Regions from separate parts of the Homo sapiens genome. Here all the other regions are reported to be linked to region 3. Evidence: microRNA targets listed by miRTarBase, many of them from high-throughput screens and not tested one by one. Region 3 holds a microRNA gene; each other region holds the end of a gene's coding sequence.

Region 1 (3,230 bases), not on the chromosome of region 3:
GAGCTAGATACAGAGTGCCAATTGGTTTATTTACAATCCCTTAGCTAGACATAAAGGTTCTCCAAGTCCCCACCAGACTCAGGAGCCCAGCTGGCTTTCACCCAGTGGATCCTGCACAGGGGCTGCAGGTAGAGCTGCCTGCCAGTCCCGTGCCCTGCTCCAAAGGCACTCCTCAGCCCTTGGGTGGTCGATGGGACTGGGTGCCCTGAGCAGGTGGCAACACTCGTTGGGGAGGCTCGGACTGCGCAGGAACCCACGGAGGGGAGGGGGGAGGCTCAGGCATGGCGGGCTGCAGGTCCCCAGCCCTGCCCCGCAGGAAGGCAGCTAAGGCCCAGTGAGAAATCGAGCACAGCAGCTGCTGGTCCAGGTGCTAAGCCCCTCACTGCCCAGGCTGGCGGGGCTAGCCGGCGGCTCCGAGTGCGGGGCCCACAGAGCCCACGCCCACCCGGAACTCGCGCTGGCCCGCAAGCACCGCGTGCAGCCCTGGTTCCCACCGCGCCTCTCCCTCCACACCTCCCCGCAAGCTGAGGGAGCCGGCTCCGGCCTTGGCCAGCCCTGAAAGGGGCTCCCACAGTGCAGTGGCGGGCTGAAGGGCTCCTCAAGTGCTGCCAAAGTGGGAGCCCAGGCAGAGGAGGCGCCAAGAGCGAGCGAGGGCTGTGAGGACTGCCAGCAGGCTGTCACTTCTCACTTTCACTTAGCATATAATGTTTCTAAGGTTTATCATCTTTTCTGTAAATCTGAAAAACTATTCTAAAATTTCAGTTTATTTAAAAAAAAAGTTGAGAGCTGGTGAGCTTTGCCCTTTTCCCAGCTGCCTCCTGGAGGCCACCTGAAGGTTGCTCCTCCCTGGGCTGGGGTCATGCCCTCCGAGGCCCTGTGGCCATGAGCTCCTCCTTGTCCCTTGGATGAGCGGGACGGCCCTTCAAGTCACACTCCCAGTCCTAAGCCGGGCGCTGCTGCACAGGCTGCGGACTTAGCACCAGCTGGCCTGGGCGGTGGCCCCACGAGTGCCTGGGAGCTGGGAGCCAGGACACCCCCGACGCCTTCAGGTCAGGGAAGCCCCGCCCCAGGGCAGGAGGGGAGCTGCGGACTCAGTGGGAGACTCATTCCGAGCCTAGGGGCAGCCCCACGCTCTCTGAGCTTCGGGATGAGCCCAGCAGCGCCCCCACACCCACTGCTGCAGGCGGGGTCGTGCACCGCACTGGGAAGTGATCCCGAGACCCGCGCACTGGCACGCACGCCTTGGTATGCACAGTTGTACACGTGCGCTGCTGTTTCCACGTGGAAACACAAACACAGTGCTGCCGACGGAAGCGCCTGCCAGCGCCAGCCTTTCCTGCGGCCCCGGCTCAGCGGCCCTGGGCTGTCATCGCAGGCCGCGGGGGACACCAGCCGTCCTGGAGCTCGGAACGCGACCCAAGGCCCAGGCTGTGGGGCAGGCGAGCGCTTCCTGGGCTGGAACCTGGCGGTGAGGACCCCGCGGTTCGGCTCGGGCATCTGGGGAGCTCCTGAGCCCGCACGGTGTCCCCTGCTCCGTTCCTTGCGCGTCACTCGCCCCCTCCATAGTCCTGAGGCTGGGCAAGGGGCAGGACCCTGCAGTCGCCTTCAGCCTGTGGTTTCTTAGTCGCAGAGCTATGGGGGATTGGGGGCGGGGCCGAGGCCGGAGGGGAGGTGGGCGGGGCCAGAGCAAAAGAGGAGACCGGGGGCGGAGCCAGAGTGGGGAGGGGGAAGAGTTTGAGCCTGGGGGCGGGGCGTGAGGCTCTCGGGGCGGCGGCGCCCCCTGGCGGCTGAGCCCGTCCCAGGCACCGGGCGGAACGTGCGACACAGCTGTGCCTTGGTAGTCCGGAGGGTGGGACCACAGGGCCCAGGAAGGTGGCGGGGCTGGGGCCGCACGCCCAGACACCTCCCCTTCGCGCGAATCCAGTGTTCTGAGCTCCACTCAGGTGGCTCCCTGGGGCCTTCCCTCCGAATGGCCAGAGGCCGCAGCCTGCATAGGCCATGGCGCTTGCAACCCTCCCCCGGTCCCCTTCATCTTCAGGCTATTCAAGGGCATCAAAAGGGGCATTGACAAGCGCACCACCCAGAGCGGTGACCACACCCGGGAACTCGCGCCGCTGCCTTCCGGGCTGTGCACAAATGACCTGGTTTCTGTAGCAGCAGTGGCACGCCGGGCTGAGCCTCCAGGACTGGCAGCAGCTGCCAGGGGTTCCCATCCCTGGTCCTCTCCCCAGGGTGCAGGGCAGGTAACGGAACTGATCGCGCACTCTTCATACAGACGCTTATTAAAGGAGATTTACTTTTACTGCAGCTCTTCTTGCCCATCAACTGTCCAAAAACAAAAGACTAGGAAACAGACCCAGCAGCCTCCACCCGACCCAGCCACAGGGCCTCAAGCCTCCAATCAGAGCCGCTCCATGGCACCCCTCAGCTCAGCTCAGTGTTGCCTGGGAGCAAAAGGCTCGGAGACAAAGCCCAGAGGGTGAGCAGGGGGGCCAGCCCCGCGTGTCTGTGAGGGTGCCAAGCCCACCGTGGGCCTTGCCTCCTCTCCCAGGACTCCCGCGCCCTCCTGAGCTCCTATCAGCCTGGCCTCAGTAGCAAGCTGGCTGCCCAGGCTCTTAATCTGCACCGAAGTCCCTGGCCACTGTCCCTTCACCCTGGCATGAGGCCGGCCTCCCTCTCCACCAGCCGGCTGACCGTGCGCAGGGCCAGGGGCAGGGCCGTGTTGGCATCGCGGTGATAGCGGGGGCTGCACACCTCCGTGCTGGGTGTGAGCACAAACTGGGCCACGCTAGGCATCTTCAGCAGGGTCAGCAGCTCTGTGGCCCGGGTACGGATGGCTTCCGCGCCCTCCTCGCTGTGCGTGGAGCTGGTGGCTGGACTGTGAGCCAGGGTCCTCATCTTTGACAGCAATAAAGAGGCCCTGGGGAAAGAAGGTCCCTCCGTCAGCTGCAGATGCTCCCCTCCCAGGACAGGGGTCTGTGTGGAGGGGCCAGGCCTGAAGCGCCCAGCAGAGTGGCTTTAGCTCAGCAGGGCCCACCCAGGACCTGCGCTGCTGCGACCATTTCACAACACCTGGATGGGAAGACCTCAGAAGCCACCTCTCTTCCCCAGGAGCCAGAAGGCTTCGCTCCCTCCCTGACCAGGCACCTGGGGATCAGATCTTGGCTCCGGGAGGCCAGCTTCGTCAGCGTGGTCATCAGCACGGTGACCACCTGGGGGGGACACCTGGG
Region 2 (3,255 bases), not on the chromosome of region 3:
CCACAGACAGCAGTGTCTCAGCTGGCACAGACTGCCTGTGTAGTGGGTCGCCCAGGACCACATCCCACCCAATTCCTCGCTGCCAAGGAGAGAACTAAATCCCATGTGCCTTCATTACTGGATGCTGACGTGGAAGGTCAGAGCAGGGACTACACTGTGCCACTGTGCAGAATGAGGAGCAAAACCAGCCGGCCATCTATATATGAACTGGAGAAAGAATTCCTGTCTTAAACTAAGTGCCTTACTGTTGTTTAAGCATTTTTTTAAGGTGAACAAATGAACACAATGTATCTACCTTTGAACTGTTTCATGCTGCTGTGTTTTCAAAAGCTGTGGCCATGTTCCTAAATTAGTAAGATATATCCAGCTTCTCAAAAAATGTATATGATTGCTGTTAGCCATGTCTATTGTTTTTCCTCTGGATTCTTTTCTTATAACTTGGAATACACAAAAGTGTAAAACAAGAGATGTGCACCAATGAAAACTATGCTGGGTCGAATTACCTTCAGCACAATGTTAATGTTTTTGTTCTCATTTATGCCTTTGTCCATTTGCACACAACAGAAATTGTAATGAGCTTCACTATTTTTGTTTCTTTCCTTCCTTTTTTTTCTTTTTTCCTTTCTTTCCTTTTTCTTGTCTTGTTTCTTGTTTTTTTTTCTTGTAGTTTCTTTTCTTAATTGTCATTTTTGCAACAAAAAGCCAAGAAAGAGCTTTAGTTTCTTGGCAAGAATAATGTGATATTAGTAAGTAAAGGTCTTAAAAGTCTGACGACTGGAATAGATATAAAGTCCTGTTTAAACTACCTAACCTTGGCTGTGGGCCGATAATGCATATGTCCAGTTCTCACTTAAATTATGCAATGATATTTCTCTCTGAGGAAATTATACGGAATGTAACTTATAAAAGCTTTACTGAATATAAGTTATAAGCATTTTATTCATTAGAACTCCAAAATAGATGTTCAAAGTTCAGTCCTTGCCATTTGACTGAGACCACATGGTGTGCCCCTTGAGTGAGGCTAATCTTTAGGTTTTTCCTATAGAAAACATTCTTCCTCCATCAGTAGCCCTTTATTTGATATTCAGAAGTGGAAAGCTTTTTCATTCTCCAGTAGAACTTTTAAAAATTGTTACAGATACCTAGCTCTTCACAGATATCATGTACTGTAAACAGTCATGTGTCTTAATTTTATTTTCTCTATTTGAGTGCATAATTATCCTAATAATCCCAAAGACACTGACAACTCAAGGAACAGCAGTACAGTACTATTAGAAGTTAAGTATGTTGTTGTTATTTCACATTTCATTTAATTGTGGATAAATGTTAGACATCTGTTGAAATAAGCTCATATGGTGGAAACGACAACTATATTATGAATTATTTTCAGAAATGGATCTTTGAATAGCAGATCAGGATTTAAATAATAAAATTATCTATGAATCACTTTTATGGTCATACATATATGATACAAATCCAGAGTTATTGGTGCAGAAATGGCTACCCGAGAGCTTGGTAAATTTGCCTTGGTTTCTTATGTTAAATGTATTGTGCTTCCCTTCTGTCTCTAGAATGTGGCTCTTCAGAAGACAGACAATCGACATTTAAATTTTTCCAAACAATGAAAAACTAAATTAAAAACATTGCTTGATATTTCATTTAAAATTGCACCTTGCTTAAGGTTTACTGAATAACTGAAATGTCAGCAATTTAAAATAAATTCAATTGTGTGATAAAATATCTCACCTATAATAGAAGAAAAGGAAAATCATATTATTTGGCAATTTTGCAGCATTGTGGTTGCCTAACAGGTATATCCAGCAGATGAGAAACAGTATGAAAGGATTGTATTAACATGGTAAGTTTTGCCCTAAGGAAAACGATCTTGCATTCTGGATTCTTGCAGCAAAGTCTCAGATACTTAATACGTTTTCTTGTTTTATCATCTGTTCTATGATTCGGCTTCACTTTGTGTGGTTATTGAATTATGTAACAGAGATTTGGTTTTCCCAAAATGTTATCACATTTGAAACTATGATTGCTTTGTGTTCAGTCCTTTTGGAACACGTAGCTTCCAGCTTAAGGGTAGAGAAATATATACCTAAAATCATCAATACATGAAAGAAAAAGGATGGAAACTATGTCCTCAGTTTTACTTCTACCAAAACATCCCTGTATGTGTGTGCATGTATGTTGGCGTGTGTGTGTGTGCATGCATATTAGTAAATGTGTGTTTGCATGTGTGTGTTGGGGAGTGTATGTGATCTGGGTGTTTGTTTATCTCTGTTATTATTCCCCTTTAGCTTTATTTTAGTCAACTCTACATTATGATGAATTTCAAAATGAAGCTGTATTAAAATAATTGTAATATAACAATTCAATCTCACATGTTACTGCAGATAGTTAACTTTTGCTGCAATCTATTGTACATTTGCAATTTTCTGTGTTAGTAAACTTAGCAGAATCTGGTTATTTATTTTTGTGTAGGCTTAATGTTCACTGAAAGATAAGTCAATTACTGTTAGTAAAAAATTAAGGTACTCTCACTGCAGAGATTTAAGGCCTGGGCCTAATGTGCTGTATTATGAAGCCTTGTGACTGAAAAATATGTTTACATATGTTGTCTATTTTTTTAATAAACTTTTATAGCTGGTCTATTTGCTCAGTAGCTTTGATCCTCTCTTGATTATTGTGACTATAGTTTGCAATGGTTTATTTTGTATTCAATAAGAAAAATTGTGTTAATAAAGATTATTGTTTAATAAGCCAGGTATTAACCTGCTAAATATATTAAACTGAAAATCACTAAATGAGTCATTCAATTAAATACATCAAAAAAGGTAGAATGAAATGTTTTATTTCAAATTTTTTTGGTTTACATATGCATTGAAAAGTTATATTTCATGGTGAGCGTTTTGCAAGTCCAGCTTTTCAGAAGACACACTTTTGCAGAGTGAAATGAGTATGAGAAAAAAATCTCAGTGATTAAGGAGACATGTTGATTTTATTGTTTAATTTTATGTTTAAATCAGAGGAATTTCAAACACCACTTAACATGTAGAAATTCTTACTAAGTGATAAAAGCTTGAGTGAATGAGGAAAGCAGATCGCAGGACTTCATGGAGATCATAGCATTACCCCACCACATGGGAGGGAGCAAAACGTAATGTGCATTGAATATCTGTTAAGTATGGGGAACCCTCCTAGGTGCCTATAGAAGACAACTCCTGTAATTCTCTTTAATAAAAATTGTGA
Region 3 (3,255 bases):
CAACCTCTAGTGATGCATTTCCAAACTCAGGTTAAAATGAAGGTCAAGAACTCCTGTTTTGCCATTTCTAAATTATTGGGATTAGGCTATGAGCTTATTTCGAGGTATTTTTCAGTTCTGCTATGCTATGACTCTGATTTTGTTTTTATTTGGTAATCTTATATGGACAATAATTGCATTTTGCAAATTTAAAAGTATCATGCCAACATGGTTTGTCTGTTACTTAGCTTTCATTTTTCTTTTAATGTTGGAAAATTGTGATACAAATTTATAGATCCTAAATTAACAAATTACTCAAGACTTTAGAATTTCTTAAAATGTTATGGTATGCTTTTTTTTTGAAAGCTCTACATTTTATAAAACCAAATTTGTCATACGAAGTTTTAGGTATCAAGAAAGAATTCTGTGGATTTTTGTGTTGTCAGGGTATCTTAGATTGTAATTTTATGTATTTTCCTTTTGGTACCTCATAAAAACTAGAAGGGCTTTCTTGAACTGCATACTTTGTCAATACAATTTGATGATGGAGAAAGACATTTAAGTCCAGAACGATTGGTGTAAAGTACACTGGGTGAGACTGTATAGTTGAATTTTCCAGATGATCGAAAATTGACAGTAAAGAAATATATACAAAATAGATTTTGAAAGAATTGTTGAATGTTTACCTGTCGCTACATATTATCTTGGATACAGTACAGATAATCCGAATGGAAAATTGCACTGAAAATGTCTTCCCCTGAGTTATATTTGCTGGTTCTTACATAAAATGTTATTTATACAACAGATTTTATTGTATCTTCTCTTGCTTTACTCCTTTATCACCTTCTAGCTAACTGTCCTGACTTCAGACCTCTGTTAGATCTGCCAGATGTGCTCTCCTGGCCCATGAAATCAAGCGTGGGTGAGACCTGGTGCAGAACGGGAAGGCGACCCATACTTGGTTTCAGAGGCTGTGAGAATAACTGCAATTTAGAGGGAATACCATTTATGTTTATGCAGGACTTCCAGAGAAAAAACAAAATTTATTATAGACATAAAGAATAAGAGATGAAATTCATGATTATATTGCATTTCTGTTCCAATGGGATTAAAAAAAAAAAAACACGTATTCTAAGTAAGTTGAACCAGGTTGACAGCTAATGATTTGATGTCTCTGTTAATGATTTTAAAACATTGTACAAATCCAAAACTGTTTACTCCTTCAAGGTATACCTCCTTTTCTCCCACTTCTCCAGCTATTGTGGTCCATTTGCCCTTGCTCTGGGCTAGTTCCTTGGTAACTAACAGAAATGGATGGACAGAGATGCCATGACAGGAGTATGGATTTTGCTGGGTCCTCATTTATGCTGGGGCATCTATCAACTCTTTTTCCAACATATTTTTGTTTCCCACACAGCCCCACTCACAGATGCTTGCCTATAGGGCCAAAAATCTCTAGTTAGCAATCTGCCAGAGTCCTGCTTTTTTGTGTAGGAGATTGGAGTTCTTTCAAATAACCCATCTGGTAAGATGTAGAGAAGTAGAGAAACTGAGGTAAATAAAATGTATATTGTTAAGTACTTTATTGCATACTTTGTACCTTTGCTGATAATTAATTTATAGACTATATCTGTTGAGCTGGTGTTGGTTAAGGTTGTATTTGCTTGTTTGTTTGTTCTATACTCTTTAAAAACTTTTGTGGGTGGGTAGGGAGGGTATAATGGTGTTGATGTATGTTGTCATCCCTTAGGCCAGAGGAACCATTTCACAATTACTTTTTATTTTCTCAACAAGAATTCTGAAGGCCTGTATCTTTGGCACAGAAAATTAAGCTATAAAGGCAAGTTCTGCCAAGTATATATTACATATCTCCTGGCCATGGATTTTGGTAGGCTGTGAGAAAAATATGAAAGTCATTTCCAAAGATTTATTTTGTATTTCCTTAATTGACTTTCATATTTGTAATACATTTTCTATTTATAAATGGTATTTCTTTGTTCCACTTAAGGTACCTTAATTTATAAACACACAAAATTAATCAAGGACATTTCCCCATTTTGTTAGGTTCTGAGAAGAATAAACCAAATTCTTCGCCAAGGCTTTTCCTTTTTTGGAAAATGCATTGGATAAACATGGTTTTCTTTGAATTATCTCAATGAAAGAGCTTCTCCCTGGACATTCTAAAGAAGTGCTGTCTGGTAGATTTTTCTGTGTTGACAGAAATGACCTACAATCTGCACTAATTTGACAGACATTAGCCACAAGGCACTTGAAAAATGGCCAATGAACTAAATTTTTAAATTTATATAGCAGCGTGTGATCAGTGGCTACTATATTGTAGAGCATAGTTCTAGAGTACTTTAGTTATTTAGATAATTTTTTATAGATTACAAGTTTACCAAATTCATCTTTATCAATTCTCTTATGAATTTGCTAGGTTTTGGTTAGTAGCTTAAGTTTATGTATTTTAGAGCAGTTTTAATACATCACCATGTGTTTTGACTTAGTACTTTTAGGCTGCTACTAAACCAAACACAATACCATAAATTGGATAGCTTATATAATTTTTTTCTCACAACTCTGGAGGCTGGGATTTCTAAGAACAAGGCACCAGCAGATTCATTGTTCAATGAGGGCCTGTTTCATGGTTCCTAGATAATATCTTCTCACTTTGTCCTTACGTGATAGAGAGGGCAAGCAACTCCTTCAGGCCTCTTTTATAGTGGCACTAATTCCATTCTTGAGGTGTCTGTGCCCGTGACTTAATCACCTCCCAAAGGCCTCCCCTCCTAATGCCATCAACTTGGAGGTTAGGATTTCAATATACAAATTTTGGGGGCAACACAAACATTCAAACCATAGCATTCTTATACAATAAACTACTCACAAAATAGAGAGTTAACTAAAACAATTCTCCAAGTTTTAAACAATTTATATGGTTGCCACTTTATTTTCTATGAAAACAAATTAAATTTCTGCTGAAAGCTAAAAGCTGGCCAATTACCAAGTGATCCCACAGTTATTGAGTGTTACTACTTGGACAGCATTAAATAAACCATTCTTTAAGTTACAGAAAAGATTTGAGGTGATTCCTCTCTTCAGCCATCCTACAGTCTTGATAGAAAGGCAAAACTGGCAGTTATGAAATAATTAAAAATAAATCAGTGCTAAACTCTATTATGTAAAATAGGAGTATAGATGAGGGAGAGATCAGTGTGGATCATAGTAGCCAATCTCTGCACTTTAAAGTTAAAAGGACCCTTAGAAATCATTCAT

The links. The annotated mature microRNA hsa-miR-551b-3p reads GCGACCCAUACUUGGUUUCAG and lies in region 3 at 927-947, shown strand. An mRNA with a match to its seed (bases 2 to 7 or 8) in the 3' UTR can be bound and repressed. Matches are read on the target gene's strand: a 7mer-m8 pairs with bases 2 to 8, a 7mer-A1 pairs with bases 2 to 7 and ends in A, and an 8mer does both.
Region 1: miRTarBase lists AP5Z1 as a target of hsa-miR-551b-3p. Seed matches in the 3' UTR shown: 7mer-m8 at 2,372-2,378 and 7mer-m8 at 1,413-1,419.
Region 2: the mRNA of MAP3K21 is a reported target of hsa-miR-551b-3p. Seed matches in the 3' UTR shown: 8mer at 491-498.

What each region holds. Positions count from the first base shown.
Region 1 is chr7:4,790,805-4,794,034 of GRCh38, reverse strand. AP5Z1 (adaptor related protein complex 5 subunit zeta 1) reads right to left here. Exons shown (of 17, transcript NM_014855.3): 16 at 3,148-3,230; 17 at 1-2,920. The coding sequence ends at 2,650. Among named protein-coding and RNA genes, the nearest start is that of MIR4656, 3.8 kb to the right of the region's middle. RefSeq lists enhancers at 433-1,107, 1,212-1,291 and a silencer at 1,682-1,801.
Region 2 is chr1:233,382,481-233,385,735 of GRCh38, forward strand. MAP3K21 (mitogen-activated protein kinase kinase kinase 21) reads left to right here. Exons shown (of 10, transcript NM_032435.3): 10 at 1-2,668. The coding sequence ends at 231. Among named protein-coding and RNA genes, the nearest start is that of MAP3K21, 56 kb to the left of the region's middle.
Region 3 is chr3:168,550,988-168,554,242 of GRCh38, forward strand. MIR551B (microRNA 551b) reads left to right here and starts at 867; the gene lies at 867-962. It also overlaps the pseudogene EGFEM1P.